4 linked regions of the Homo sapiens genome follow. The protein of the gene in region 2 purifies or fractionates together with the protein of the main gene of each other region. This does not show direct contact. Each region holds a gene or a part of one and is shown on either strand. Other genes may lie near its edges. The genes, in order: ATE1, REG4, HTRA1 and KLHL26.

What was found.
Region 1: the proteins of REG4 (region 2) and ATE1 purify together in Homo sapiens (affinity purification with mass spectrometry; 2 studies listed by BioGRID and IntAct, with this or other methods). This does not show direct contact.
Region 3: the proteins of REG4 (region 2) and HTRA1 purify together in Homo sapiens (affinity purification with mass spectrometry; 2 studies listed by BioGRID and IntAct, with this or other methods). This does not show direct contact.
Region 4: the proteins of REG4 (region 2) and KLHL26 purify together in Homo sapiens (affinity purification with mass spectrometry; 2 studies listed by BioGRID and IntAct, with this or other methods). This does not show direct contact.

The regions. Positions count from the first base shown.
Region 1 is NC_000010.11:121,918,019-121,925,041, forward strand, and holds part of ATE1 (arginyl-tRNA--protein transferase 1), read right to left. Parts: intron 6,312-7,023; coding exon 6,248-6,311; intron 4,394-6,247; coding exon 4,331-4,393; intron 1-4,330. UniProt on the Homo sapiens protein: Involved in the post-translational conjugation of arginine to the N-terminal aspartate or glutamate of a protein. This arginylation is required for degradation of the protein via the ubiquitin pathway. Does not arginylate cysteine residues.
Region 2 is NC_000001.11:119,801,438-119,808,460, forward strand, and holds part of REG4 (regenerating islet-derived protein 4 isoform 1 precursor), read right to left. Parts: intron 1,729-7,023; coding exon 1,631-1,728; coding exon of another isoform or gene 1,391-1,630; exon of another isoform or gene 1-1,390. UniProt on the Homo sapiens protein: Calcium-independent lectin displaying mannose-binding specificity and able to maintain carbohydrate recognition activity in an acidic environment. May be involved in inflammatory and metaplastic responses of the gastrointestinal epithelium.
Region 3 is NC_000010.11:122,485,549-122,492,571, reverse strand, and holds part of HTRA1 (serine protease HTRA1 precursor), read right to left. Parts: intron 3,671-7,023; coding exon 3,571-3,670; intron 3,151-3,570; coding exon 2,946-3,150; intron 1-2,945. UniProt on the Homo sapiens protein: Serine protease with a variety of targets, including extracellular matrix proteins such as fibronectin. HTRA1-generated fibronectin fragments further induce synovial cells to up-regulate MMP1 and MMP3 production.
Region 4 is NC_000019.10:18,632,147-18,640,027, reverse strand, and holds the start of KLHL26 (kelch-like protein 26), read right to left. Parts: upstream 3,001-7,881; 5' UTR 2,974-3,000; coding exon 2,891-2,973; intron 1-2,890. UniProt on the Homo sapiens protein: May play a role in endo(sarco)plasmic reticulum (ER/SR) mitochondrial signaling. May be part of the ubiquitin-proteasome system (UPS) and affect ubiquitination and degradation of target substrates in cardiomyocytes.

The sequences.
Region 1 (7,023 bases), on a different chromosome or scaffold from region 2:
AATATGGAAAATGACTCCATAAAAAGATGATGTGGCTGGGCCCAGTGGCTCAACGCCTGTAATCCCAGCACTTTGGGAGGCCAAGGCAGGCGGATCATGAGGTCAGGAGTTCCAGACCAACCTGGCCAATATGGTGAAACCCCGTCTCTACTAAAAATACAAAAATTAGCAGGGCATGGTGGCATGCGCCTGTAGTCCCAGCTACTCAGGAGGCTGAGGCAGAAGAATCACTTGAACCTGGGAGGCGGAGGTTTCAGTGAGCAGAGATCGCGCCACTGCACTCCAGCCTGGGAGACTAAACAAGATTCTGTCTCAAAAAAAAAAAAAAAAGATGATGTATAATGAATTACAAAGAGACGCAATTCAGGAAACATTTGATGCCACGTAAAATGCAAAAATCACATAACTACTTTATTTTGCAATGTTAATGAATCCCCTTTTATAAAGGCAATATGCTTAGAATAGTGCTTTCCATGTAACAGGCACCAAATACAATTTAGATTCTTTTTTCTTTAACCAATCGAAATCACCCTTTTCTGATCACAGATTAAGCCAATCAACTTCAAACTTATGAATAGAATCCTGTCCATAATCCAATAAATTGCTAATTGAAGACAAATGACTTCTGCCTTAGAAGATACCTTCTCTTTATAACCACGAAAACTGAAAGAGGACAGCACAGGATACTCTGTCATTCTATTCTTTGTGTAATGACACAGTGTCAGCAAACCAGACCCCATTTTTCTCATCCTCTGCCAATCCAACGGCCAGCTGGACTTCTGGGTCGGGGCGGGGGTGGGGGGGACGTGAAGAACTTTTCTTACAAGAGGATTGTAAAATGCACCAATCAGCTCTCTGTAGCTAGGATTGTAAAACGCCCCAATCGGCGCTCTGTAGCTAGCTAGAGGATTGTAAAACGCACCAATCAGTGCTCTGTGGCTAGAGGTTTGTAAAATGGACCAATCAGCACTCTATAAAATGGACCAATCAGCACTCTATAAAATGGACCAATCAGCACTCTGTAAAATGGACCAATCAGCAGGACATGGGCAGGGACAAATAAGGGAATAAAAGCTGGCCACCCTACCCAGCAGTGGCAACCCACTAGGGTCCCCTTCCACACTGTGGAAGGTTTGTTCTTTCACACTTCACAATAAATCTTGCTGCTGCTCATTCTTTGGGTCTGCGTCACATTTAAGAGCTGTAACACTCACTGCGAAGGTCTGCGGCTTCATTCTTGAAGTGAGCGAGACCAAGAACCCACCAGAAGGAACCAACTCCAGATACACCAGCACTTTGGGGGGCTGAAGCGGGCAGATCACCTGAGGTCAGGAGTTCGAGACCAGCTTGGCCAACATGGTGAAACCCATCTCTACTAAAAATATCAAAAAAATTAGCCAGGTGTGGTGGTGCACGCCTGTAATCCCAGCTAGTCGGGAGGCTGAGGCAGGAGAATCGCTTGAACACGGGAGGCAGAGGTTGCAGTGAGCCGAGATAGCACCACTGCACTCCAGCCTGGGCGACAGCAAGACTCCATCTCAAAAAAAAAGCTCCTAATCAAGTATCAGTGAACCTTTGGGAGTCTGCGATCATTCTAAAATTAACACGCAAAATGTGCTGGGCATGGTGGCTCACGCCTGAAATCCCAGCACTTTGAGGTGGGTAGATCACGAGTTCGAGAGTAGCGCGGCCAACATGGTGAAACCCCGTCTCTACTAAAAACACAAAAATTAACCAGGCCTAGCGGTGGGCATCTGTAGTCCCGGATACTCAGGTGGCTAAGGCAAGAGCACTGCTAGAACCCAGGAGGCGGACACTGCAGTGAGCTGAGATCACACCACTGCACTCCAGCCTGGGTGACACAGCAAGACTCAGTCTCGGTGGGGAGGATATGCAAAATGTTACATATTTTTGTCTACATCCCTTTGGGCAGGAGGCCAGCTCTCATCGACTTCTCAAAATGGTTTGCAACCCAAAAACAAGTTAAGAGCAACCAAGGGAGACAGCTTTGAGGACCAAACAAAAAAACTAATGGACAAAAAACTGTTTAATTTTTTAATTTTTCATTTCTTAAAGTAAAACTGTCTTTTAATTTTATGAGTATATATACACATTGAAATTGGGGGCAAATACATGCTTCAAAATGTTAACGCACTTTTCACATTTTCTATCAAAAAAAAAGGTTCAGGTGCAGTAGTAGCTCACACCTATAATCCCAGCACTTTGGGAGGCTGAGGCAGGAGGCTCCTTTGAGCCTAGAAGTTGGAGATCAGCCTAGGAAACATGGCGAGATCAGCCTAGGAAACATGGTGAGATCTGCCTAGGAAACATGGCAAGACCCCTTTTCTATAAAAAAAAATGTAATTTGCCAGGCCTGGTGGTGTGTACCTACAGTCCCAGCTACTTGGGAGGCTGAGGTGGGAGGATTACTTGAGCCTGGCAGGCAGGCTGCAGTGAGCCATGGTTGTGCTACTGCATTCCAGCCTGAGCAAGACCCTGTCTCAAAAAAAAAAAGAAAAAAGAAGAAAAAGATGATGATGACCTTATAACCAGAATAAGAGAGAAGATTTTTCTATGTTAGGGTGAGGTGAGAAGGTACATGGAAAATCCAAAAGATTATGAAAAAATCCAACGAAGACTTTGTAGGAAAATAGACTTTGGTTTAAGTTTCCCATTTAAGAAAACTGGACTCTGGGCCAGGTGCAGTGGCTCACGCCTGTAATATCAGCACTTTGGGAGGCTGAGGCAGGTGGATCATGAGGTCAGGAGTTCAAGACCAGCCTGGCCAACATAGTGAAACCCCATCTCTACTAAAAATACAAAAAATTAGCCGGGCGTGGTGGCAGGCACCTGTAATCCCAGCTACTCGGGAGGCTGAGGCAGGAGAATCACTTGAACCCAGGAGGCAGAGGTTGCAGTGAGCCGAGATCGCGCCATTGCACTCCAGCCCAGGCGACAGTGCGAGACTCCGTCTCTTTAAAAAAAAAAAAAAAAAACTGGACTCTAAGTGTAAGTGGCAGATTAAATTTAAGCCCTCTTCCTTCCAATTAATTTTTTTTTCAACTTTTATTTTAGATTCAGGGGGTATAGGTACAGGCTGGTGACCTGGATATATTGCATGATGCTGAGGTTTGCAATATGGATGATCCCACCACCCAGGTACTGATCGTCATACCAAGTTGGTTTTTCAACCCTTAGCTCACGCCCTCCCTCCTCCTCTAGTAGTCTCCAGCTTCTACTTTTGCCATCTTTATGTCTGAGTACCCAAGGTTTAGCTCCCACTTATAAGTGAGTGAGGTGGGAAATTAAAGAAAAATAAAATTAAAAAGAAAGATAAATAAGCTTTCCTGTATTAGGCCGACTTGTCCCAGAGGCAGCAACAGGCACGGCCCAGACCCAGGAAAAGCCTTGATAATATTATCTAGTGTGCTCTGGAGATTCTCCCAGCACTCAACATGCAGAGAAGAAAAAATAAATTTTCCTTTGTTTTACGGAATGAGTTCATAGATTCCTGTTCTCTGTAACTAGTGACTTCAAGTATTGTTTTATCTGAGAAGTACAATGAATGTCATGAGAAGCCTGAGTAGGCCTGAACTGCAGCTGCCTGGGCACCATAGTGAAGATTATGGGATAAGCCCAGGCAAACCTAGATAACGGACATCTGGGTTGCTTGGCAACGGTCATGTGCAATCCTGAGTTTGTCCTGCCTCTGTATCCCTGCTTTCACGCCACTGTAAGCTTGCTTCAAGCTAGCCCACCCCCTTCTGTGAACTGTGTATAAAAGTCTTTGTTCCGGGCCCAGTCTTTTAGACGTTGAGTCAGCTGGGCCTAAGTGCACTCAATAAAGTTTCTCCTGTTTTAACCCGAGGTCTCTCTTGTCCTCCTGAATCCCACAACATGAGAACGTGAACCTACCAAGTAATTTATAGGAGCCTGTAGCATTGCTTGAACACAAGCACTGTGTCAAGCAATACACCAGAATGCAGAAAATTCTAAGCTAAGTCCTATAATATTTAATATCCAAAAGTAATGTGAATATTTACCAACATTTTCCCAATATTTCATGGCATTCATTGACAAGATTGCTAAATTAAGAGGGTATTTTTTTCACATATTTATATCTGAACCAATCAAACAATATTACTAAAACCTACTGATCAGCACATAAATACAGCATCAGTATGAAGAAAAGACATAACTCATTTACTTTTCCTTTTAAAGGACATCTACCTAGAGCGGAAATAAACATTAAAAAAGCACAAGAGACTACTAAAATATTATACACAATCTTCATACTATAAATCCTCTTTCTACTAATTAAAATTCTTACCTTATTGTGTACTGAGGACAACATGTTTGATTCATGACAGGTTTGTACACATATTTTCCACTTCTAAAATTATAAAAATAGTTTGTTAATGTCTTATATATTTTTCACTTGCACCAAAACAGCCTAGCACAGGAGCATTAAATTAAGGTTAAAAATCTAATCAACATTGTAGAAATGCATGTAGGTTTAATTACTCTTCATAAGCCAAATAATCTTCAAAGTGCGTGTAGCAAAGTTTAGAACCCTGCCTTTTATTTCCTAAAGCTTTACTTGTGTACCCCACGGCCAATCATCTCAGTTCCCCTCTCACCAGCATCTGCCACCCCTGCTCTGCCTTCACCTGCCACCAATCCCCAATACCACAAGGGCAATGAGAGAAATGCCCACGATGCTGTGGGACTCATGTATGTGATGCCTGTGACAACCACACTTGGGTATTCCACATGCACCAGCACGGAGTACCCCAAAACTAACCCGCTTCTTTCCATGCATTCCAGGTCTATGGTACTAACAGAACTGTTCATTCTGTTCTCAAGTCAGAGACCTGGGAGTCATTTTAAACTCCTCCCTGGAATTCACCTCTATATCCTATTAGCAAGCTTTCCTTCATTTTAAACCCTATCCTAAATTGTCCCCTCTTCTCTATCACCATTGCCACTAAGGTGACAGTCCTCATCATCGCACATCTGGATAGCGCAATAACCTTTGAACTCATCTTCCTGCCTCTATGACCCCCCCTCAAATACCTCTCAGCCATCTGAACAATCTTTTCTAAAACAAATTCCTTCACATTTCTCTCTTACCATAAAATCCTTCCATGACTGCCTTCTAAAAAGTTCTGGCCAGGCATGGTGGTTCATACCTATAATCCCAACACTTTGAAAAGCTAAGCTGGAAGAACACTTGCAACCAGATGTTCGAGACCAGCACGGGCAACATAGCCAAGATCTTACAAAAAACTGAAAAATTAGCCAGGTGTTGTGATGCACACCTGTAGTCCTAGCCACTGCAGAGGCTGAGGCAAGAGGATCACTTGAGTGTGGGAATTTGGGGTTACAGTGAGCTATGATGATGGCACTGTACTCTAGCCTGGGCAAGAGAGCGACTCTAGCCTGGGCAACAGAGCGAGACCATGTCTCTAAAAAAAAAAGTTCCTTATCATGGCATGTGAAGTCCTTTAAAATCTGACCTATGTCTACCTTTTGAATCTCATTAAGTTTAAGGAAAGTTGTGATATTTCAGCTGGTGCTCCCAATCCCACGTCTTTGGCAAGTATTAGCGTACAGTATTTAATATTACTTATATTTACACAAGGAACTTTACCTAAGAGTTACTTAAAAATCATCCACATAAAAATAACTACTCAAAACAGGCCATGTGTGGACTTTAAGGAAATCCTTATCCAAATAAACTGTTAAAGAAGACATTTTTGAGACAATCTGGAAAATCTAATAAAAAGTAGGTAACAGGTAACATCAAAGAATTTTTATTAATTTTGTAAGGTGTGATACAGCATTGTGGATAAGTTAAAAAGAAAAAAAGACCTCTCTCTTAGAGATACATACTTATTGCCTATCTATTGATAGGATAAATGTCATAATAACCTACTGATGTAATTTGCTGTTAAATATTAAAAGGTGGAGCAGGAGAATCAAACATGATTGGCAGAACGTTAATAACTGCTGAAGCTTAGTGATAGGTACTTGAGGTTCATTCTAATGTACTCTCTGCTTTTATAGATATTTGACATTTTCCTAACAAAGTTTTTTAAAAAGGAGACAAAAAATCACTACATAAAAGAATATAATAAAAATTTTTCTTAAACCTCTTTCCAACAGGAAAGCATTTCAAAGGCATGCTGTATTTTTCAAGAACCTGAGTAACAGTAGGAAGTCTCTTTGTATCTGGAAGCTTTACCTTCGCCATCCTCGGTCTATGAGATCCTGATAATCCTGTACTGTCATGGAATGTGCCCACATGCCTGAAAAAATAAGTAGTGTGTTAATTACGGCAGGGTAACCTTTTTTCTTTTTTAAATTCAAAGTGTGAGGTTTAAAAATAGGAGTGTGTGTCCGGGCACGGTGGCTCATGCCTGTAATCCCAGCACTCTGGGAGGCCAAGGCGGGCAAATCACAAGGTCAGGAGTTCAAGACCAGCCTGGCCAACATGGTGAAACCCCATCTCTACTAAAAATACAAAAATTTAGCTGGGCATAGTGGCGGGCGCCTGTAATCCCAGCTACTCAAGAGGCTGCAGCAGGAGAATCACATGAACTCGGGAGGCGGAGGTTGCAGTGAGCCAAGATCACGCCACTGCACTCCAGCCCTGGCGACAGAGTGAGACTCCATCTCAAAAAAAAAAAAAAAAATAGGAGTGTTTAGGTTAAAATTCCAAAACACTCATATTGGATAAATGAAAAGTTTGTACATACTTCACAGCTGTTAGTTGGGCATACACACAGCACAAATAAAGAATGACACTATATATATTTTCATTCAAAAAAACACATCGAAGTTAATTATATTTATTTGAGGATTAGTCAATAGTCTCTATGACAGCATAAATTTAAGTCCTCACTGCAATCAGACTGCATCAGACCTTCAAACTTTAATAAATATCCCCAATGATTTAACATGCTGGTCTCTTCAGAAAACTTAGCAAAATGTTTTGTGCTTATTAGTTCTCCTGATTTA
Region 2 (7,023 bases):
CGACCAGACAGCATTTATTGAGTGCCCACTCTATACCAGCCACAGAAGATCCTGTGTCAGAAGGGGAAACAGGTTTGGAGGCTTGAAGTATGTACGTGATAGCCTCCCTCCCAGTCCACACAACTGGTACTGCTGGGGCTGTAACTAGAACTCAGGCCTCTGCCTCTCAAGCTCAAGGTCGGATGTCCATGTGCTTCTCACGTTGCCTCCATCAGCTTCCAGGGGTCTCAAGAGCCAGCCATGCAAGAAGAGCCAAGGGCGGTAGCAACACTGGCGAGGAATCAGGGAGCCGCACAGCTCTTGTTGGGTTTGAGGGGTCCTCTTTGGCTTCGCTGTCCTAGCACCCTCTCTGCACCTTGGTCCTGTTAACTTTGTTAAGGTTCAGTGTCAATCCTGTGGGCTGTTCTTTCTTGAGACCCTGAATTGGCATCTACCATGTGGCATAGGCTTTATGCGAGTCGTTTTAATGAATCCTCCTGACAAGTCCATGAGGTAAAAAGTATTATCCCACTTTCCAGTAGGGAAACAGGTAAAGGGAGGTACCTAGGGAGTGGCAGAGTAGTGATGTAAACTCAGGTCTCTATTACTCCTCGGTTCCCAGACATCTTCCTCTTTGTTCCCTCTGTTTTCATAGAGAAAGTCTATTCCTCTCCACGAGCTCATTTTCTTTCCTGGGACAGAGTCTGGGAAACCCTTTCTTCACTCTGTTTCTCTCCCCTTTTTATACAATTATTCAGGACTCAGCTCAGACTTTGCTGGGGTTGCTGTGTCAGTTACTCTCAGTGTAAACTTGGGAAAGTCATTTATACTCATGCTGTATGGAAATGTTCTGTTTAAATGTCGCAATCCTGCATTAATCCTGGGCTTTCTAAGGCGGGAGAATACCTTCATAGCCTCAGTAGCTGGCATGTGGTAGGTGCTTCGTTCTTGTTTTTTTGTTTGTTTGTTTTGTTTTCTGTTTTTCATTGTCTAGTTTTATACAGGGATTGTAAGACCGCATAGGCCCAGATCATGCCAAATGTACCTATATGGCTCCCCCAATTAATCACAATTCAGCAGCATCCACTCCCCATATGTGGCTGAGATAACTTACTTTGACTGTCTATTTGGTTATCTCTCAGACAAAGCTTCAACGAAATAAAATGGACAGGTTTGTGGACTGTGTAGAGCAGCGGAAAAGTTTCCACATTTTCTTGGACTGCTTCACCTTCTGTCAGCGGCTCCAAGGTGTCTGCTCCAGGCATGTCTACACACCACTCTCTTTCTGGTAAATCTTGTACAGAAACTCCATTATCCTTTCTGTGAATTCCTCATCTTCTCTTCCTCCTTTGATTGATGTATTTCTGTCTCCTTTACTGACAGTGAGCTTGCTGAGGGTAGGGGCTCTTTCCTATGTATCCGTATGTGCTTGTAGCCCATCTAGGGTCTGGCATACAGCACCTGCTTCAGCAATGCTTACAGAATTGAATGAGTTGAACACACAACCCTCTTCTCTCCATTTCACCAGCCAAAGGGGCTTCTCTTCATAGTGCCCAGGAAGGACACTTGATCCTGAATCAAATGAGATCTGGGGCTCTGGCTGGTCCTTTGCTCTAGAAAGGCCAGGCCAAGCAGGCAGCAAGTTTCTTACCTCGGCATCAGACCAGTTCCTCAGCTTCCTGAAGTAACCATAGCAATTGGACTTGTGGTAAAACCATCCAGGAGCACAGCTGGGTCTCATGATGATATCTGCACATAAACAAAAGGCAATTGCACATTATGATAGCAAAAACAATCAATTCCCAGACTTGATACAGTTTGCAATCAGGAACCCCTTGAATGAAGAGAGTCCCTTCATGAAGGGTCCTGCTACACTGCCAAAAATGTATACAGCTTACCCTTCTTCTGGCTTTTCCCAAAGGGACCTATGGCCTTTTACCAGTGTGACTGTGTTTCTGCGATTACTGGACACTGCCTCTGAACAGACATTAATTCCAAGAAAACGTCACTGCGGTCCACCAGTCAGAGTAGGGGTTATGGAAGTCAGGTGATCAATGGAGTTTTAGCTTGATCTGCCTCACAGTGGGTCCAGTGAGTCCAGTGGGTCCCCTGAACCCATGCTGTGGTTATCTCCCCAGTTCTGGAATGCATAATTGGAATATACATACATACATAATTGGACTAGATAGACACTCATAATTGGAATAGATTCTCAGCAGCTGGCAGAATCTTGTATTAGCAGTGAAGGTCAAATAACTATAATTTAAGGCATCACAAGAGTGGATGAGGGACACAAATTGGTAGTTTGGAGCATTCCAAGGAGGGAGGAGTCACTTTGGCTTGGGAGACAAGGGAAGGGTTACATGGCAACTTGACTGGAACTTGAGCATAGGTGGGCTATGTGTCAGTACTGGGGGAGGGAACATTTTAGGCAAAGGAGGCAGGAATGTGTGGGGAAGGATAGAAACAGCAAGCACTTAAGTCTGCCTTAAGTACAGGGTGTCTGTCAGGCAACCATGGCAGAAATAGGAAAGAGCCAGGGCCTAGAAGCAAAGGAATCCATGATTCAGGGAGGCACATGCTTTTCCTGCTAGTCCATTGGTGAATGTGCCATGTCACTGAATCTGAAGGTTTATAAAGAGGGGGAGATGGCTGGATGTACAGAGGCATCAGGTGATCAAGGGGATGTCAAGCTAGCAAGTGTAGGCTTTGTGACTATGTGGCTACCTTCTGACACCATGGTGGGTGAAAAGTGTTTCCTTCCATAAGGGAGGTCCACAGACTGCAGCTGTCATAACAGCATTTTCTCTCTCCTCATTCAAATGATACTACTGTCGCTTGTTTGCCCCACTCTTCTGTTTTATTTCAGCCCCTGCCTATGCATCTCCCAGGGCTCCCCATTGCTTTCAGATGAGCTCTCTGCTCGTCTAGCATGTAAGAGATTTTATAACCTGGTTGTATGCCCCTATCCAGCCACATCCTTCTATGCCATAGTCCCAGCTCCGTCTTGGAACACGAATGCTCAGTGTAGCTTTAGATCCTTTGTATGTGCTATTCCTTGTACCTATGAATAATGAATAATGACCAACCTAACTACGGCAAGGCAGGAAATGTTTCAGTGAGTATGTCAAATATACTACAAACAAACAGCAAAGATATTCATGTATTTAAATGCTTCATCTTCTACTACATTCATAAACATGAACATAATTTTATGATAAATAAAACACAGCCTTTATGCCATTGCCGTTACTACTAGTACCACTGTCACTAGCTTTTGTAAATAAGGTGCTTGACTTTCTATCATCTCTCTGTTCTCTACCTGTCTTTGCACTCTGTCTACATCTCGGTCTCTTTTGTCTCTGTGTTTCTGTGTGTCCCTCCTTGTCTGTGACTGTTTTCTGCTCTCATTCTTTTTTCTCCCCCTCCTCCTTCCTCACTTTTCTATCTCTCTCCCCTCCCCTTTCTGCCCCTCACCCTGCAAGGTGCTTTCTTGATGCCAGGCACCATGTTAGGTGTTTTATCCATATGGCATTTTTATCATAATTGCTTGAGGAGGTGAGGAAACAGGCTCAGGATGGTCATCTGCCCACGGTCACACAGTAAGATGGAAAAGCTGCTTTGCAGATCCAGTTCTCTATGATTTAAAAATCTATGTTACTGCCACCAACCCTCCCAACCTTTATAAAAACGAGAAATTCAAAACTTAGCAACAGAAATAATTAATTGGGCTGCCTTGATTATTTTCTCAGGAGGAAAAGAAATCCTTGCACTTTACGTAAAAATTGATCTTCTTAAGAGAAGGCTGGCCATTGATTACCAGAGGGCAGATAATGACATGGGCTTAAATTTCAGAAAGGGACAGCTGCGAAAACATGCCTTCCAATGTAATACCAGTGAGACTGTTCTGAAAGAGGTGGCAAAGAGGAACCCAAATTTCTGACCTTTGGCCCGAGGACAAAGACCCCTGGCATCACACCTGGTGCTCCTGGTTTGGTCTTGTGCACTCTGAAGCAACTGTCCTTGGCCTTCCGTGAGCAAACATGTTAGGACAGACCCTCTACCACCACGGTCTTTGTTTCCCCTGGATCCAAGCCATGAAAGCAGAGGGCCGAGGGACACACGCAGAGGACTTGGAAGACCACGCCGGAGCCCAGACAATCATGACTCTCTCTCTTCTCTTTCTCCCCTTTCTCTGTCTCTCTTTGTGTTTCTCTGAGTGCTGCTCTCTGTCTTACCATCTCTCTGTTTGTGCATCTCTGTCTTTGACTTTCTATGTATCTCTCCGTTCTCTCCCTGTCTTTGTACTCTCTCTTTTCTCTCTGTGCCTATGTGTGTTCCTCCTTGCCTATGACTGTCTGTTCCCTGACTCTCATTCTTTTTCTCCCCCTCCTCCTTCCTCACTTCATCTCTCTCCCCTCCCCTCTGCCCCACACTCTGCAAGTTGCGGCTGTGGCCGTGAGCTCCTTGGTGGAGACATTTTAGCTCCTAGATATGCAACCAACGGCCGCTCTGCTGCGCTATGGCTCTGCCTTGCACTACCCCACTCCCATCGCCCAGGCTGGAGGGCAGCGGCGCCATCTCGGCTCACTGCAGCCTCGACTTCCCGGGCTCAGGTGATCCTCCCACCTCAGCCTCCTGAGTAGCTGGGACTACAGGCGAGCACCACTGTACCAGGCTAGTTTTTTGTACTTTTTTTTTAGTAGAGACAGACAGAGTTTCGCCACATTGCCCAGGCTGATCTGGAACTTCTGGGCTCAAGTGATCTACCCGCCTTGGTGTCTCAAAGTTCTGGGATTACAGGCCTGAGCCACCGCACCCGGCTTTACTCCACACATTTATTGAGCATTTACTATGTACCCGATGCAGGTCCAGGCCGTTTACATATATTCTAATCATCTTCATAATAACCCTGTCATTATTCCTACGTTCCAGATGAAGAAACAAAGGCAGAAAGAAGACATCGTGTCCCAGGATCCTACAGCAAATAAATGATAAAGGTAAGATTTGACCCCAGACAGACAGTCTGACTCCAAGTCTTAGTCATCTTAGTAATGATGCTCAAGTTATTGCTTTAAATCCTACATGGGTCAAGCACATTCGTTGAGATTATTTTGTTTAATTACCAGAGCCTCCCTGAGAGATAGGTGTGGATAACCATTTCCATTGTACAGAGAAGAGAACCTCCTCACAGGGGCGAGTAACCTGCTGAGGTTACCCAGATGGGGAGTGTGGTGGAAACTGGGAGAGAAGCCAATGTTTCCATGGTGGCCTTAGAACCTTGACCCCACCTCACATGGTGCTAGAGCTCGTCATCTCTACACATGCAGTATCAAGAGGTTTCAGCTTCTAGCATCTTGCCTGGACTACTCCAATACTCGTTCTACTCCCTCACTTATTACATGTATGACCTTAGGAACATGATTTAATCTCTTTCAGCTTTACTTTTCTTGTCTGTACAGTGGGATCAACAATATATGCCTTCTTCACACAGTTGTTGGGAAGATTAATTAAGATAATTCACGTACAGTGATTAGCACAGAGCCTAGTGTATAGGAATTGTTCGACAAATAGTAGCTAGTTAAAACCTGAAGCTATTAAAACCCATCATCATTATTATGTAATAGTTTTGAAAAGATAAGCCAGATGAAGTTTTTTAGTGTCCATAAATGATGTTGCTCTATGTCTCTCCACTCACTGAATCAATGCCATGAATTGCTTCAGGTGAAGGGCAGGTATCAGGACAAAGAACTCACTGTGGAAGCAATAAGAGTTTAATATTCACTACAAGGTCTCATTGAGAGAGAAAATTAATTTCTAAGTCCCCTCTATTTCTCTTAAGTACAGCAGTGCAAAGAACATTTAGGATATGTCATAAGGGAGGTTCCCCCAAGATAGTAAGAATAAGTAGAATGTCCTTCTGCAGCTGGAAGGAAGATCTATCTGGAAGAGAGAAATTGAAGGACCTGTAGTGAATCTTGTGTCTGCATCTCCTCCTCAGGAGAGAAGCCAGAGAGTTTAGTGAGATCCCAGGGATAGGAAGATGGTTGTATCACATTCCCCAGGATATAGCTTGGGCAAATTTCAAGTTTCACTAAGTAGGTCTGAAGTCAGCACAGAACAAGAGTGGCAGGGAACCACCTGGCCACATAGAAATGGCCACAGAAGGCAGCTCTGCAGGAGGGGCTCAAGAGCAGCCCCCCAGAGCCTTGCACTCTCTTGCATGGTTTCCTTTGCATGGCTGAGTTCCACAGGTCCTGAGCAGCCTGCGATAGTTCAGTGAACTGGTGTAGGGTTGAAGACAAAGAGCCATGAAAGACATATTAGGGATAACTATGACCAGGACCGCAGACTGCAGCCATAGGGGCCAAAATGATGCCCAAAGAACCTTGCTTCTCTTAGTATGTCCTTCCAAACCGTCCTACCCTTGGCCAAGGGCATTCCCCAGCAGTAGCAGTACTAAGTAACAGATAGCACTGGTCCCCTCTGGAAGCCCTCTTCTCAACAGAGGCAATGCTCAAGTATGGATTCTTCACTCACTCTTACATGTCCAACACCCAGCAAAGCCACATGGGACTGTGAAAGGCACTAGAAGCCCAAGCATCACTTAATCTTACTGTGTGACATTGGGCAAATCTCTACCCTTTTCTGGAATTCATTTTCCTTGTAAATAGAACAAAGACATTACACCAGATGAGATCACATTTCATTTCCTTCCATTTCTGGTATTCTGTGACATTTCTTCTTAGCTCACTCGTACACTGTTCCTCCCCTGCTTTCTCTATTGGTGGATTCTACAATATTGCTACCCACTTTGTTGCCATGTTACTTTGCACTTGATGTGTGATCTATAAATGTATAAGCGCCATCTCTCTAACTAGATTGTAGGTACCTTGCAAACTGGAATCCCTAATAATGCTCAAAATGATAAACCAGTGCATAAGCATTGGGGAATTCTAATTATGGCTATGACTTATTGACAATCTGCTAGGCAACAGGTGTTTCAAACACATTATCTCTGCCCTTCACAATAAACTTGCCAAA
Region 3 (7,023 bases), on a different chromosome or scaffold from region 2:
ACCTGAGGTCAGGAGTTTGAGACCAGCCTGGCCAACATGGCAAAACCCGGTCTCTACTAAAAATACAAAAAGTAGCCAGGCATGGTGGTGCACGCCTGTAGTCCCAGCCACTCAGGAGGCTGAGGCAGGAGAATCACTTGAGTCCTGGAGGTGGAGGTTGCAGTGAGCGGAGATGGCGCCACTGCACTCCAGCCTGGGCAACAGTAAAACTCTGTCTCAAAACATAAAAATAAAATGAAATAAACATGTTTATGAAGGACAACGGGGGCCCCTCCAAGTGAAATCAGGATGCCAGGGGAGGAGCTGGGCCCAGATGATAAGCCACCGAGTTAGTCACTGGGCCCACGGACGCGGCAGGCAGTCTCACCAGCTTCACTGGGTTACTCTTAAATGGCTTTGCAGGAGGCTGGGCCACAGTCTCATATGACAAGGAGCCGTGTAGGTGATTTTCATTCCTCAAGCACAGTTTCTGCTGGTTCTGTTCTGCCTTCTCGGTTTTCCTGATCTCTTTCATCCTCTTTGTTATCCCTAAGATGACACAAAGCAAGGCCAGCCAGAGCTTCCCCCGAAATAACCCATCATCAAAACAAGGGAACAAAAGAGAAAAAGCTGGAAGAGATGCTGTTACTCTCCCTACTTTCAACTACTATCAGCAAAAAAAAGCAGTTTAGTCAGTGGAAACCAGTCTTTTGTGTGGGTGTCTGCAATTTAATATCCTTTCATTTCCAATTCCATTTTGAAAAGCCACATCAGTTCAATTTTAAATTTCAAGCACCCTTTCTTGGGGGGCTTGAAACACATGTCAAACAGCATGCTGCTGGCTGAAGAGCTAAACTCCCAAGACAGCAGGAGTCAGGTCAGACACACTCTGCAAAGCTCGTCTATTGAGATCGTTCACGTCTTGCCAGGACATGCCAGGGATGGCACGAGGAGACAGTCTCCACCTTGGCTCAAAATTGGAAAAGAATATCCCCCGGCCAGAAGCAGCCGCACGGTATGTGCCCACGCATTCCAAACACGAAGTTACGCAGTGGGGGCGGCGTCCAGGCCAGCGCCTCGCCTGCACACAGCCCATGCCCTGCTGCTGGCTGCCTCCCAAAGCTCCATGAGGCTGAACAGGTCCCACGCGTGGCCACAGGCTGTGCTATTCTGACTGGCTCCTTCCGGTGAGACTACCACATCCTGGATACCTTTCTAGCAGCCTGTTCCTAAACCAGATGCACCCGCCTTCCCATGGGCTGTTTAAGGTCAAGCTGTCCCATCAAACCACGGGGCCGGCCTCTATCCCTCCAGCAGTAGCCATGGGCTGCCTTAGGAGGGCAGGGTCATGAGGTGTTTGCTGTGTGGCCTCACACAGGTTACTAGACTTCTCTGAGCCCCTGTTTCTTCTTCTCTAAAATGGGGATAACACAGCTATTATGCAGATTAGGTGAAAAAGAATGAAGGCAGAGGCTGGCCCAATAATCCTGTGACCAATAAACACACTTTGAAAGATTAGTTGTCGCTAGAAATTCCACAGTGACCTAATAGAAATAACACACAACTGCAGCCTCACTCAAGGCCAGTTACACACACCGGGCACAGAGCCTATATCTACCCAGAGCCTCTTCGGCCATGCCTGGCCACCCAGCCATAGAGAAGCTACAGGAACATCGGGGAAGGAGGGTAGTAAATGTGTTAGCTGGTGGTTTTCTGAAGACTGGCCGTAAAGGAGCCTGAGCTGGGCAGCAACTTGATGTTATAAAAAGACGGAGAAGGAGACCCGGAATCCTACCACCCAAACAGCACACGCAGAGTTGTTTCCAGAAGGAGGTGTAACCAGCGTGCCACTGAACAGCACAAACAGCCAGATTAATTCCACGCTTGTCTGGAATTACTCAGCCCACACCCAGGTAAAGCGAGGCAAGCAGAGGGCTGGACAAGAGACCCCACCTGGCTCAGCCTCTGGTCTTTTCCTTGGTCAGAGGCAGGATTCCAGCCTCCTCTGATTGTTCCCTCCATCTGAAGTCTAGAAAATTATAAGGATGTGAAGAAACTGGAAACCACGCTTTCACTGAACATGCCACACAGCAAACAAAACCTCTCTCATCGACGTGTCGAGTGGGGGTTTTTGATGAGTCAGTAAGAAATGGATATTGTCCCAGACATGAAGACTTTGCTAAGCAAATCAACAGAGCAAAAATGATTGCAAAGAGAATATTTAAATAGAAAGCATTTTCAAATACAGCATTTCCCAAACTGATTTTGGTATGTCTCAGTTCTGCCTGCCCCCACAAAAAGCTGTATACTCAAATGATTATAATTTGGGCAAATAGTTCAGTCAACACCCTTTTGTAGGCAAGCCACGTGCACACTAGCATACTAAAAGCTCTGAGAAGGTCTGGAAAGAAGAAATCCATTAGCTCTGTTTTAATTCAAGTTTTCCAAGATGTTTAAAGTACGAAACATTCTTTTGAAACACATCTCATAACCCCGCAAAACCCCAATTTGGGAGAGCTGGTTTGTTTTCAAAGTAACTGTTGACAAGTTAAGGATGGCTCAGTCTAAAACCCAGTAAATTCTATGTTCATTGTGAACGCATGATGTATCTGTGGAGGATAAATAAAATCTGTAACAAGAGTTGCCACAGGATTGGGAATGGGAAGGAGAATCAATTTTCACTACTTACCTACTAATTTCTTTACAAATCTATTGCTTTCTTTGACAAACATTTAAAACATTATTTTAAAAACTTTTATCTGGCTCCTTACAGAAGTTTTCCTGAGCCCCTTCCTCTCCCACACCCCCAGGCCATACTCAGCATCTCCTCAAGGCCCTCCTGTGACTGGCTCAGACTGGCTTCAGTGCCCCCCGAGAATCAGCTGCAATCAGAGAGCTCTGGTGCCTTTGCCAAGGGTGTTCCGGGGCATCTGAGAACTCACCTCTGCAGGCGAGAACACCCTTACCTGGTGGTCAATTTTGATGAGTGCGATGTCTGCTTTCTCATCCACATCCTTGATTTTGGCTTCGTAAGTGGCACCGTTCTTCAGCTCAACTTTGACCCGGTGCTTGTTGGTCACCACGTGGGCATTTGTCACGATCAGTCCATCTTCCGACACAATAAACCCAGACCCACTAGCCACCGGCACCTCTCGTTTAGAAAACGGAAGCCTAAAATCCAAAGGAGTACACACTTAAGCCTGTAGCACCTTAAAATGAACGCTTCAACGCATTGATTAATGGGTTGTGCAACAGCCACACACACCTAGCCATCGCTCCTTTATATATCGGGCTTAGCATTTAAACACTAAACATCCTGCCAATTTTTTGCATGCATCAAAAACTTCCACTTACAAAATATTCTTAGAGAATCTCTTCAGAGCCCGAGGTTCTTTAAACATTCAGAAGGGTCAAGAATGTAGATTTATATAGTCGAATAGGGAAAATGTTCTAAGGGAGACACACTTATCTTAAGTAGGAAGATATTCAGTGACACTTTGACACTTTAATGTATCTCAAAAATAGCTCTCATGTTTTGCTAGTGGCGGTGAAAGCTTCGGAGGTTATAGGAAAAAGGAAGGCTCTCTTTACTTGCGAAACAATTCGATATGAACCACGGCAGGGGCGATCTTCTCCACCACGTCCGCGATAAAGTTATATTTATGGCGCAAACTGTTGGGATCTTCCTGCCCTGAGAACAAAAGCAAAGAATAGATACTTAATGACACTCTGCTGTGGCCACCTAGAGAAAGACATGGGTTAGAGGAAGCCAAGATGCATGCCCAGCCTTTGGAATTCTGAAGGCGGAGTGAGCGCAATTCCCCCACCTGGGCTCAGCTGCAAATGTCCATCCACCTCCCAAGGGAGTGCCCACCCAGGTAAGGCAGTAAAATCCACTAATGATAACCTCTTTGCTCAGGTTCACCACAAAAACGTTGAGCAGAGGCACCAGCAAATGCTTCAACCTCACACCAGCCTTTCCAAGAAGCTGATGGCCCAAGTTTGTTTTTTGTTTTTTTTCAGTTTATTTTTAGATGGAGTCGCACTCTGTCACCCAGGCTGGAGTGCAATGGCGCAATCTTGGCTCATCACAACCTCCACCTCTCCGGTTCAAGCGATTCTTCTGCCTCAGCCTACTGAGTAACTGGGATTACAGGCACCCACCACCTTTGTATTTTTGTATTTTTACTAGGGACCGGGTTTCACCACGTTGGCCAGGCTGGTCTCGAACTCCTGACCTCAGGTGATCCACCTGCCTCGGCCTCCCAAAGTGCTAGGATTACAGGCGTAAGCCACCACACCCAGCCAAGGGTCCCTTTTTGATGTGGCATCACCCTCTGCCTGCGTCCCTTCCCTGAGTCCCCACCATTACAAAGAAGCAACAACCCTCCTGAGAAACACCGCAGGAGCAAAGAGCACCGGGGCTTTTTCTAGGAGAGGCCCACCAGACGGGTACATCTGAGATTATTACGAAGAAACACGAAGGCAAAGGGGCAGCTCCTATCTTTCCCACTGACACCCCAAGGCAAGCTGAGGCCATCGTCTGTCCCCAAAGCAGTTTCCGCCATGCCTTAACCACACGTTCCAACCCTGCCCGGGACATCCCAGACAAAAGGCATAAGAGGTGCCTTAAGACTGTGGGTGAGAAAAAGAGAAAAATCAAACAACTGTAATGCTTTATACCTACAGTCATGCACCACATAACGTTTCAGCCAGCCGCGGACCATAACACCATTGTTTTTACTATACCTTTTCTATGTTTGAATACACAAATACTCACCATTGTTACAACTGCCTACAGTATTCAGTACAGTAACCTACTGTACGGGCGTGCATCCTAGAAACAACAGGCTCTGCCATCTGGCCTAGGTGTGGAGTGGGCTCTGCCATCTAGGTTTGCGTAGGCACACTCTGTAACATTCCCACAGTGATGAAATCGCCTAACGACGCATTTCTCAGAACGTATCCCTGTTGCTCAGTGATGCATGACCGTTTATATTACAGTGAGTGGCCCCACGTGGTGGGCGTTTCCAAAGCTACTTTCAACAAAGCTGTCACATGTCCCGATGTGAGGCTCTCACCCAGCAGGGCTACAAGTTAGTTTCCATCAACCAGAGGCACATACCCAAGGTAACTGATTCAGAAACGGACTGCTAGAGATTCAGGGTCCTGGGCTCCCATTTTCGTGGCACGGGTGGTGGCAGAGGCAGTGTGTCCCTGGAAGTGCAGCCTTAGCCTACTACTCCGGCTCCTAATCTTGCCACCTGCTGCTACCTCTTAACAAGTCTCTGCTAAAGCAGGCTGGAGAGGTTCCAGGCTGGTCTGCAGCTGAGAGCCATGCACCCCATTCTTCCCCCTTGGACTAGCTCAGCGTTGCACAAGCAGGCTCCAGGGACCCGCACTCCTCTGCTAGCTGCTCACTACGAATTGACAGGAAGCTTTCGGAAACTTTCATAGCAATTTCACATGGTAATCTTATGTCTGTTGCACTGAAAAATGAGTAACTGGGGCTTGTATTTCCTGTCTCACATTTTGTATTTTGTAGGTATTTTGTGTCTCATTTACCAACAGGCCTGTGTGCCTGCCCCTAACACACATGCATATATACACAGAGATGCAAATGCACACACACACACAAACTCACACATACACACTATGCATACACACCCACAGATGTACATGCATAAACACACCCACACATACACCCACATTTACACACAAACTGTCACATAAACACCTATACACACTTCCACACACATTCATATACTCACAGATGTGCACATACATACAGTCACACATATATACATGCAAATGCACACATACATACAGACGCATACACACACACACACACACGCCTCTCTCATCACTAGAGTGGCAACCCTTCCCCAGGCTCTAGGCTATAAGTAAAAGCTGTGAGACGTCCCAGCCCTCTTGTGACCCGTCACAGCTTCACACCCACTGGTTCCCACATCCCTGCTGCACTGGGTCACGAAGGGCCATAGTAACCCAGCTTGACACCATGGGGCACAGGGACATCGGGAGGACCACCTGCCTCTCCCACGCTTGCTTTCTTGGAAGTGAGAGCGCTTCTGTGAACAAAGGGCCGTTTTCTGTCCTAGCCCCTGACCTCTGAGTTGCTTTATTTAAAGATTGGAATCATCTCCTTTTACATAGCATGGTTTTTTTCTAAGGTACAGAAAAAGATCTGCAACTACTTGGAAGAATAATTTAACAAATTCAGAACAGTATCATATTATTATTTTTGCTTTCAAAACCCTTTCATTGGCTGCCTTAATTTAATTTTTTCTACCTTCATGTGGAATAGGAAAATCAGGTATCCTTCCCATATTATATATGGGGAAACTGAGGCTCGCAGACTTTAAATAACTTCTCCATGGACACTGAAGTTTCTTAATAGAGAGTATAAGTAACAGATCTGGGCAAGCCCTCCCAAGCCCACAGTGTCACCAGATCTACAGCTTCTCACTTCAACACTGGCCTCCTACAGATCTGCTACCCTCCTAGGTTTCCAGGTAGTTGCAAATAATTGGTGTGTCCCCCCGAGCACTCCAATGGGAGGTGTAAATAAGGGAATGGAAATGTTCCTTCTGAAAACAGAGCCTGGCGAATGTCACCAGACAGCTGTAAACAAACGCATCTGGGCTTCCTCAGACCAGCTTCCTGGGGAAAGGCCAAGAAGAGGTTTAACTCCAGCCAGGCCAGAACACAGAGACAGCGTGGTGTTTCAGAAACTCTCACAAGAAGGACCATTACCAGCGCCTTCCCACTAAGGATCATTAACTCACTTCCTCTTTCTGGCTTCCTGAATTAGGTATGGGAGAATTTGCCCACACCAGGGGCAAAAATGAAGATGGATTGAAGGTGGATTTTGCTGGGTAAAATGAGAGGCAGTTCCCTTCTCACACAGTCACATAAAGTGGTTCCAGGGTCTTCCCACCAGGAAAGCAACAAGGGAGATCAAGGAGGATCTGGCCTGGCCACTGGAAGGCCCAGTTCCAGCCTCAGTCCACTGAGCAGCCTCCA
Region 4 (7,881 bases), on a different chromosome or scaffold from region 2:
TTGTTTATTTTCACTCCACAGTGAAAAAGAACAAATTTCTGATACAACAACACAGATGAACTTCAAAAACATTATGTTAAGGAAAGAAACCAGACGTAAAGGCCACATGTCTGATTCCATTCTTACGAAATTTCTAGAAAAGGCAAAGCTACAGAGAGTGAAAGCAGATCAGGATGTCCCCGGGGCTGTATGTTGGTGGAGCAGGGTTAATTGCAGACGAGCTTGGGGGAACTCTTTGGGGTGATGGAAGCATTCCAAAAAACTGGATTGTGGTGAAGGATGCACAACTCAGTAAATGTACTGAAACTTAATGACCTGGGTTGAGCACAGTGGTTCACACCTGTAATCCCAGCACTTTGGGAGGCTGAAGCGGGCAGATCACTTGAGGTCAGCAGTTCAAGATCACCCTGGCCAACATGGCAAAACCCCGTCTCTACTAAAAATACAAAAATTAGCTGGGCATGGTAGCATGCACCTGTGGTCTCAGCTACTCGGGAGGCTGAGGCAGGAGAATTGCTTGAACCCAGGAGGCAAAGGTTGCAGTGAGCCGAGATCACACTACTGCACTCCAGCCTGGGCAACAGAGTAACTCTATCTCAAAAAAAAAAAAAAAAAAAAAAAAAACTTAATGATAAATTAAAATGAGTGAATTGGCTGGGTGCAGTAGTTCACGCCTGTAATCCCAGCACTTTGGGAGGCCGAGGCGGGTGGATCACCTGAGCTCAGGAATGCCAGACCTGCCTGGCCAACAGTGAAACCCTGTCTCTACTTAAAAAATACAAAAATTAGCCAGGCATGGTGGCGGGCACCTGTAGTCCCAGCTACTCAGGAGGCTGAGGCAGGAAAATCCCTTGAACCTGGAAGGCAGAGGTTGCAGTGAGCCGAGATTGCGCCACTGCACTCCAGCCTGGGTGACAGAGCAAGATTCTGTCTCAAAAAATAAATAAATAAATAAAAACAAAATGAGTGAATTGTATGCCATGCAATTAATTATATCTTGATAAAGCTGTTTATAAAAAAAGAGCCATGCCCAGCATGGTGGCTCACATCTGTAATCTCAGCACTTAGTGAGGGGTGAGGCAAGAAGATTGCTTGAGCCCAAGAGTTTGAGACCAGCCTGGCAACAGAGCAAGACCTGGTCTTTACAAAAAATTTAAAAATTAGCCAAGTGTGGTGGTGCACACCTGTAGTCCCAGCTACTCAGGAGGCTGAGGTGGGAGGATCACTTGAGTCCAGGAGTTTGAGGCTGCGGTGAGCCTTGGTGGCGTCACTGCACTCCAGCCTAGATACCTGGGTGACAGAGCGAGACGGGGTTTCAAAAAAATAAAAATAAAAAAAGCCCTAGCCCCAGGTTATCCCACTCCAGTGCCCAAGGCAGGGACCTGGGGTTCACTGTCCCTCTTCCCTGTCCCTTACTTGCCAACTGATACCCAATTTTCAAGCCCTGGCCACTCCCTGAATATCTCTGAAAATCCTCTGACATCTCCTGGCTCCCTACTGCAGGACAATCTTGCCCCACACCTACCCCAGGAGGCTGGTCACCCCTCTGGACACACACCTCCTGGGTTCCCCATGGCCCCTCTGGCAGACCAGATTCAATGCCCACAGACCTAAGTCTCAAGGTGCCACTCAGCATCCTCAGGAACAGGCAGGGCCTTTGCCTCCTCTGTGCCCTGGCCCAGCCATCCCTCCTCCCTTCCCCACCCATCCCATGCGTGTTCCATTCAGTACCAAATCACACAGCCAGGCCATCAGGCCATTCCCTCCAACAATCAGCCCACAGGTCCAAAACTCCACAGCACGTAAGTATCAAACAACTTCATCATTTATCATGTTGCCTGAAATTACTGGCTCCTGGAAGCTCACCAGCAAGAAAAAGCCTGAATTTCCTCCTTGGCCTGACCTGGGTGCTGGGCTAGAGGAGGAGCTGGGGTGGGAGGGTCTGGCTTTGCCCAATAGGAAAAGAGCAGGAGATCACACTCCTAAGGCAGGTGTTCTTTCCCTCTGACAATCCAATACAATGCATGCACACACATATCATTAGTTATTGATGATAACTAATTGTCATGCAAACCTGGACGTTCAAGCAATCCATGTCAGGACTGGGCCATGGGGAAAGGGGGCCTCCCTCTGACCAAAGGGGTGAATTCTGTCCCCTTGTCTGAGGGCAAGACCTTTCTGTAAGTCCTTTAGCCTGTTGGGGATGTGGATTTGGACCCCATGGGGATGGAAGGGAGGAGCCCCAAAGAAGAACCCTCTGTATGTTCTTTATAAACCCCCTGGAGTTCTCTCACCCCCCTCAGGTTCCCTAGACCCACCCCAGGCCCCCTCAGCCTCCCCATCTCAGACTCCCAGATTCACCTAAGTCCCCCACCCAGAGCCTCCCACAGTCTCTACTCCTTCCAGCGCCCCTCAGCACGCTCTCAGGACCACCTTTAGCCACCTTGGGGCCCTTCAGCACCTCCCAGGATGCCTTGGGCCTTAGCCCCTTCCTCAGAGCCCCCAAGACACCTCACCACCCTCAGACTGGCCATGGCATGGCCCCTGCTCAGGCCCTCTCTGCTGCCCAGGCCCTTTGGCATCCCCAGTTGCCCCACGGCCCACCACAGTCAAGAGCCCCTCGGTTTCCCTTCAGACCCCCAGGATTCTCAGGTCCCTAGGGCCGCCTGCAGACGCCTCGAGGTCCTGGGGCACCCAGCCCCCCTCCAGCCACCCCCTCAGTAGCCCTCGGCTCCTCCAGTACCCCACGGCCCCGTAAAGTCCAAATTCTCAGCGAAAGACCCTCGAGCCGTGCCAGGCCTCCCCTCAACCCCTCAGGACGCCCAAGACTGCCCACAGGTTTCCTGGGCTCCAAGACAGGTGCAGGTCTATCCTGCGGGCCGGGTCTCACCTGTTCGGGCGCTCGGGGCCCGGGCCCGCGCCGAAAGCGCCGCCGCCACCAGCACCACCGCTGCTACCGCCGGACTCCGCCATCTTCCCCCCGCCGTCGCGCGTTCGAGTGACGGGAGCCGCGCGCGCAGGCCCGGGAAACCGAGACGCGGGGGGCGGGGCGGGGCCAGGTCTGCGGAGGGGCGGGGCCGGGACCAGAAACCAAGGATTGGGGCGGGCCCGGAATCGGAGGGGCGTGGTCTACGGAGGGCCGGGGCGGGTCTGGGATAAAGGGAGGGGCCTGCTATGCAGAGAGGTGGGTCCAGGGCGGGGCCTGGGCTAGGGGTGCCGGATTGGGGCGGGACCCTGGCGTGAGGGGCGGAACCAAGTCTGAAAGGGAAGCGGTTCTGGGCTGAGAGGGCGTATTGTCTGTGGATAGGTGGGGACGGGGCGAAGCAGGACAAGTAGGCGCAGGATGGGGTTGGTCCCTGGGCTGAGGAGTGGGGCGGGGTCTGAAGAAGGGGCAGGCCCAGGGCAAGAGGAGGAGGGACAAGGGTCCGGCCTGCGGAGGAGGCGGGGCGCAGGATAAAGGGCGGGGCCAGGTGTGAGAAGGGACAAGGTGGAGGTTAGGAATGCGGTGGGGGAGTGGTCGGGGAGGTAGAAAGGAGAAGATGGGTCTGAGGTTGGGCGGGTCTGGGCAGGAGAGAGGAGGAATCTGGGGATGGATGTGGTCAAGCGAAGAGAGGGCCTGGTCTGAGGAAGGGCGGGGCCTGGGCGAGGGGTGGAGTCTGGTTGGAAGGAGGGCGGGGAAGATCAGGGGTGTGTGCGTGGAGGGGGCGAGGGATTGGCGGGGCCGGGGGGGCGGAGCCTCATCTGATGGGGGTGGGGCCGGGCTAAGTGAGCGGCGGATCTGAGGAGGGGCGGGGCACGTGCAGGTGTTAAGGAGTGTCTGTGAGTGCCCTGGGGCGCTGGCAGGCGTGCCCCGGGCGTTGGCTGGGCGTGGTTATACTTTGAGGCGTTGGAGCCACAGGGAAGTGAGTTATAGGTAGGGTGGGAGGGAGGGTGAGATGGAGCATGGAGAAATGGGTCTCTAAGCTCTGAGAACCACACCCTCCCTCTCCCCACCCTGCACACCCCGACTCCAGTCTTACCTCCTTCCCAGGCCTCTCTCAGGGGCGAAACTCACCCATGCCCAGGCCTCAGACTTCCAGCCCCTCATGGTTCCCCACCCTCCCCTGACATACCCTCTTCAGAGCCTCCACCCTGAGACCCCAATCATCTGGCCTTAGGTTCCCACCACCTGCTTCATACACCAATTCTGGTTTCTCATACTCTAAAACCCTGCACATCCAATTATCTCCCATTCTCTACTCAAAACTCATCTCCCACTCCCCCAAATCCCTGCCCACAGATCCTTCAAACCTTACACTCCCAAAGTCCATTCCACCGGACCCAACACCCTCAGATCCCCAAGCACCAGCCCTCCCAACACACTGACCCTCAGCCAGGGCTCAAAGTCCTGCATCTATAGGCGTCTATGAAGCATCTAGACCTTTTGGGGGCACCCCTCACCCCCCATCTCTGGTAAGCTCCAGGCTCCCAGGATCCCCTCTGTAGCTTGGAGCTCATTTATTCTTTTAACCTCCAAGTCAGAAAACTCTGACTTGTGCAGTCTTGGGCAGAAAGCAGTGATCCAGAAGGAGCTCAAAGCCTTCTTTCCCGTCAGTGCTGGAAGAAGGAGGTGGCTATGGGGCTGGAGACCCCATAGGAGGAAGGAAGGGGCCTGCTTGAGTGGACTCCTGCAGGTTGGACCGCACTCAACCAGCATCTCCAACAGAGGGCCTGATACAACAATACGTGCTCAATCGTTACACAAAATGCTCTCAGATGACCCTGTGCAAGCTGACAGATACCAAGTGCTGAAGGGAACTGCTGGCATCTCCAATACACAGTAAGCACTCTGCAAATGTTGAATGCACGCGTGCATGAACAGCTCACGTTCCGGCAAGCTCTGCACACACACACACACACCCTTGCCTGCCCTAAGTCAGCACCGCCCCAGGAGTCTTTGTTCCAGACGAACCACATGCAGGCATCAAACCTCACTCAGCAGCGACCTACAGCTGACACACCCGCCACAAATAACATTTGAAATCAATGGTGTCCATATGCACGCACACTTCATAAACATCCAGATTTGACCCATATGTCAGACACACAAGACACACAGCTGAAGATAAGAAAGAAGAGGTTCTCTGGGCTCCTGGCTGTGCACACACACATAGTGTGCTGTAGACTCACTGCACTTTGGACACACTGTGTGATCTGTCCTCCACGATCACATAGCACAGGGCAGCCAGTGCAATGTCCCTGGGGCAGGAGCGTGCCTAGAGAGTGGCCTGGCAGAGAAAAATTAGGAAGAGGGAGAGGAGAGGGGAGGAGAATGGGTGGGAGGCAACAGGAGGTGCTTCAGGTCACAGAGGGCTTTGGGGATCATTTTTGGGGTCCTCTGCATGAAATGAGAAGGGAGAGGGGGCTTGTAAGCAGTGGCAATGTAATTGACACTGGGTTTTTGTTTTGTTTTGTTTTGTTTTGTTTTTGAGACGGAGTCTTGCTCTGTGGCCCACCCTGGAGTGCAGTGGTGCGATCTCAGCTCACTGCAACCTCCGCCTCCTGGGTTCAAGCCATTCTCCTGCCTCAGCCTCCTGAGTAGCTGGGACTACAGGCATGTACCACATGCCTGGCTAATTTTTTTTTTTTTTTTGAGATGGAGTCTCACTCTGTCACCCAGGCTGGAGTGCCGTGGCACAATCTCAGCTCACTGCAATCTTCGCCTCCCAGGTTCAAGTGATTCTCCTGCCTCAGCCTCCCGAGTAGCTGGGACTACAGGCATGTGCCACCACGCCCAGCCAATTTTTGTATTTTTAGTTGAGATGGTTTCACCATGTTGGACAGGCTGGTCTCAAACTCCTGACCTCAAGTGATCCACCTGCCTTGGCCTCCCAAAGTGCTGGGATTACAGGAGTGAACCACTGTGCCCAGCATAATTTTTGTATTTTTATTAGAGACGGGGTTTCACCATGTTGGCCAGGCTGGTCTCGAACTCCTGACCTCAAGTGATCTGCCCGCCTCAGCCTCCCAAAGTGCCAGGATTATAGCGTGAACCACTGCACCCAGCTGACATTGGTTTTAACAGTGTCAATTTAACAGTGTTACAGTGTCTGACTGTTCAACAGTGTCTGACAACTGGGGGACAATATCTTGAATTTGGGACATGAGTCAGGAGGCATATAATCCAGGGAAAAATGGGTAGGGCTCATCCCAGGGTGACAGACATGGAGGGGTGGGAGGTAGTCCTAGTTGAGATGCACTTTGCAGGTGGGACCAAAAAGAGATGGAACAGATGGGATGTCGAGTGAGGCAGAGTGAGGCCAGTGACCTCTGCCAGAGCTGTTGGCCTGAGCTCTAGAGGCCACTATCACTGGCATGGAGCAGAGACAAGTGGAGGACCTGGAGGGCCCACGCCGGTGACTGCACACGCCTCATCCAGTAATGATGACCTGTGGTCTAGCAGAGCCGGCAGGCAGGGACATAGCAGGCAGCATCCACGGGCCTGGCCACCATCTGGCCCACAGCTGGCACGGCTCTCCTAGAGGCAGGGCCCGCGCCACCTGCTCTCCCACTTCAGACCAGCTGCAGGGCTCACACCCTCAGGTCAGAGCTTGGAGGCCTCCCTTACAATCCCCAGGTGTTATGGAGGAGGAAAGTGAAGCCTTGGGGGAGGGCTTCAAGTTCCTGTGGTTTTAGGCTGGGGACAGTGTCTGCCCCATCAGGCAGTCACCACGGAGTGGTCCTGGGGCAAGCCCAAGGTCCCCCGACATCAACTCCCTGTCCTCAGTCCTGTTTGATTTTTCTCCTATCTAACAAACTCTGTGTTTTACCTTTTTTTTTTTTTTTTGAGACAGAGTCTCGCTCTGTCACCAGGCTGGAGTGTAATGGCACAATCTTGGCTCACCGCAACCTCCGCCTCCGAGGTTCAAGCAATTCTCCTGCCTCAGCCTCCCAAGTAGCCGGGATTACAGGCATGCACTACCACGCCTGGCTAATTTTTGTATTTTTAGTAGAGACAGGGTTTCACCATGTTGGCCAGGCTGGTCTTGGATTCCTGACTCAGACGATTCACCCACCTCAGCCTCCCAAAGTGTTGGGATTACAGGCGTGAGCCACTGCGCCTGGCCCTAAATTTTTTTTTAATGGAGGCGGCACATCCTTTCAGGATCATGAGTGAGGCTTGCTGACAAACACCATGATCTCTCTCTGTTACCCCAGCCAGCAGCCTCCCGCACCTCCTTGAAGTCATGTCTGCACTGGCCCCACCTTCTTTTTTTATGTTTTATTTATTTATTTAAATTTTTGTTGTTGTTTTTGTTTTGTTTTGTTTTTTTGAGACAGAGTCTCACTCTGTCGCCCAGGCTGGAGTGCAGTGGCGCGATCTCATATCACTGCAACCTCCACCTCCCGGGTTCAAGCGATTCTCCTGCCTCACCCTCCCAAGTCTCTGGAATTACAGTTGCCCACCACCAGGCCTGGCTGATTTTTGTATTTTTAGCAGAGACAGCATTTCATCATGTTGGCCAGGCTGGTCTCAAACTCCCAACCTCAGGTGATCCGCCCACTTCGGCCTCCCAAAGTACTGGGATTACAGGCACGAGCCACCTCGACTGGCTACCTTCTTTTTTTATGTTTTATTTATCCATTTTCTTAAAAGACAGGGTCTTGGCCAGGTGCGGTGGCTTACGCCTGTAATCCCAGCACTTTGGGAGGCCAAGGCGGGCGGATCACCTGAGGTCGGGAGTTTGAGACCAGCCTGACCAACATGGAGAAACCTCATCTCTAATAAAAATACAAAATTGGCCGGGCGTGGTGGCTCACGCCTGTAATCCCAGCACTTTGAGAGGCCGAGGCGGGCAGATCACGAGGTCAGGAGATCGAGACCATCGTGGCTAACATGGT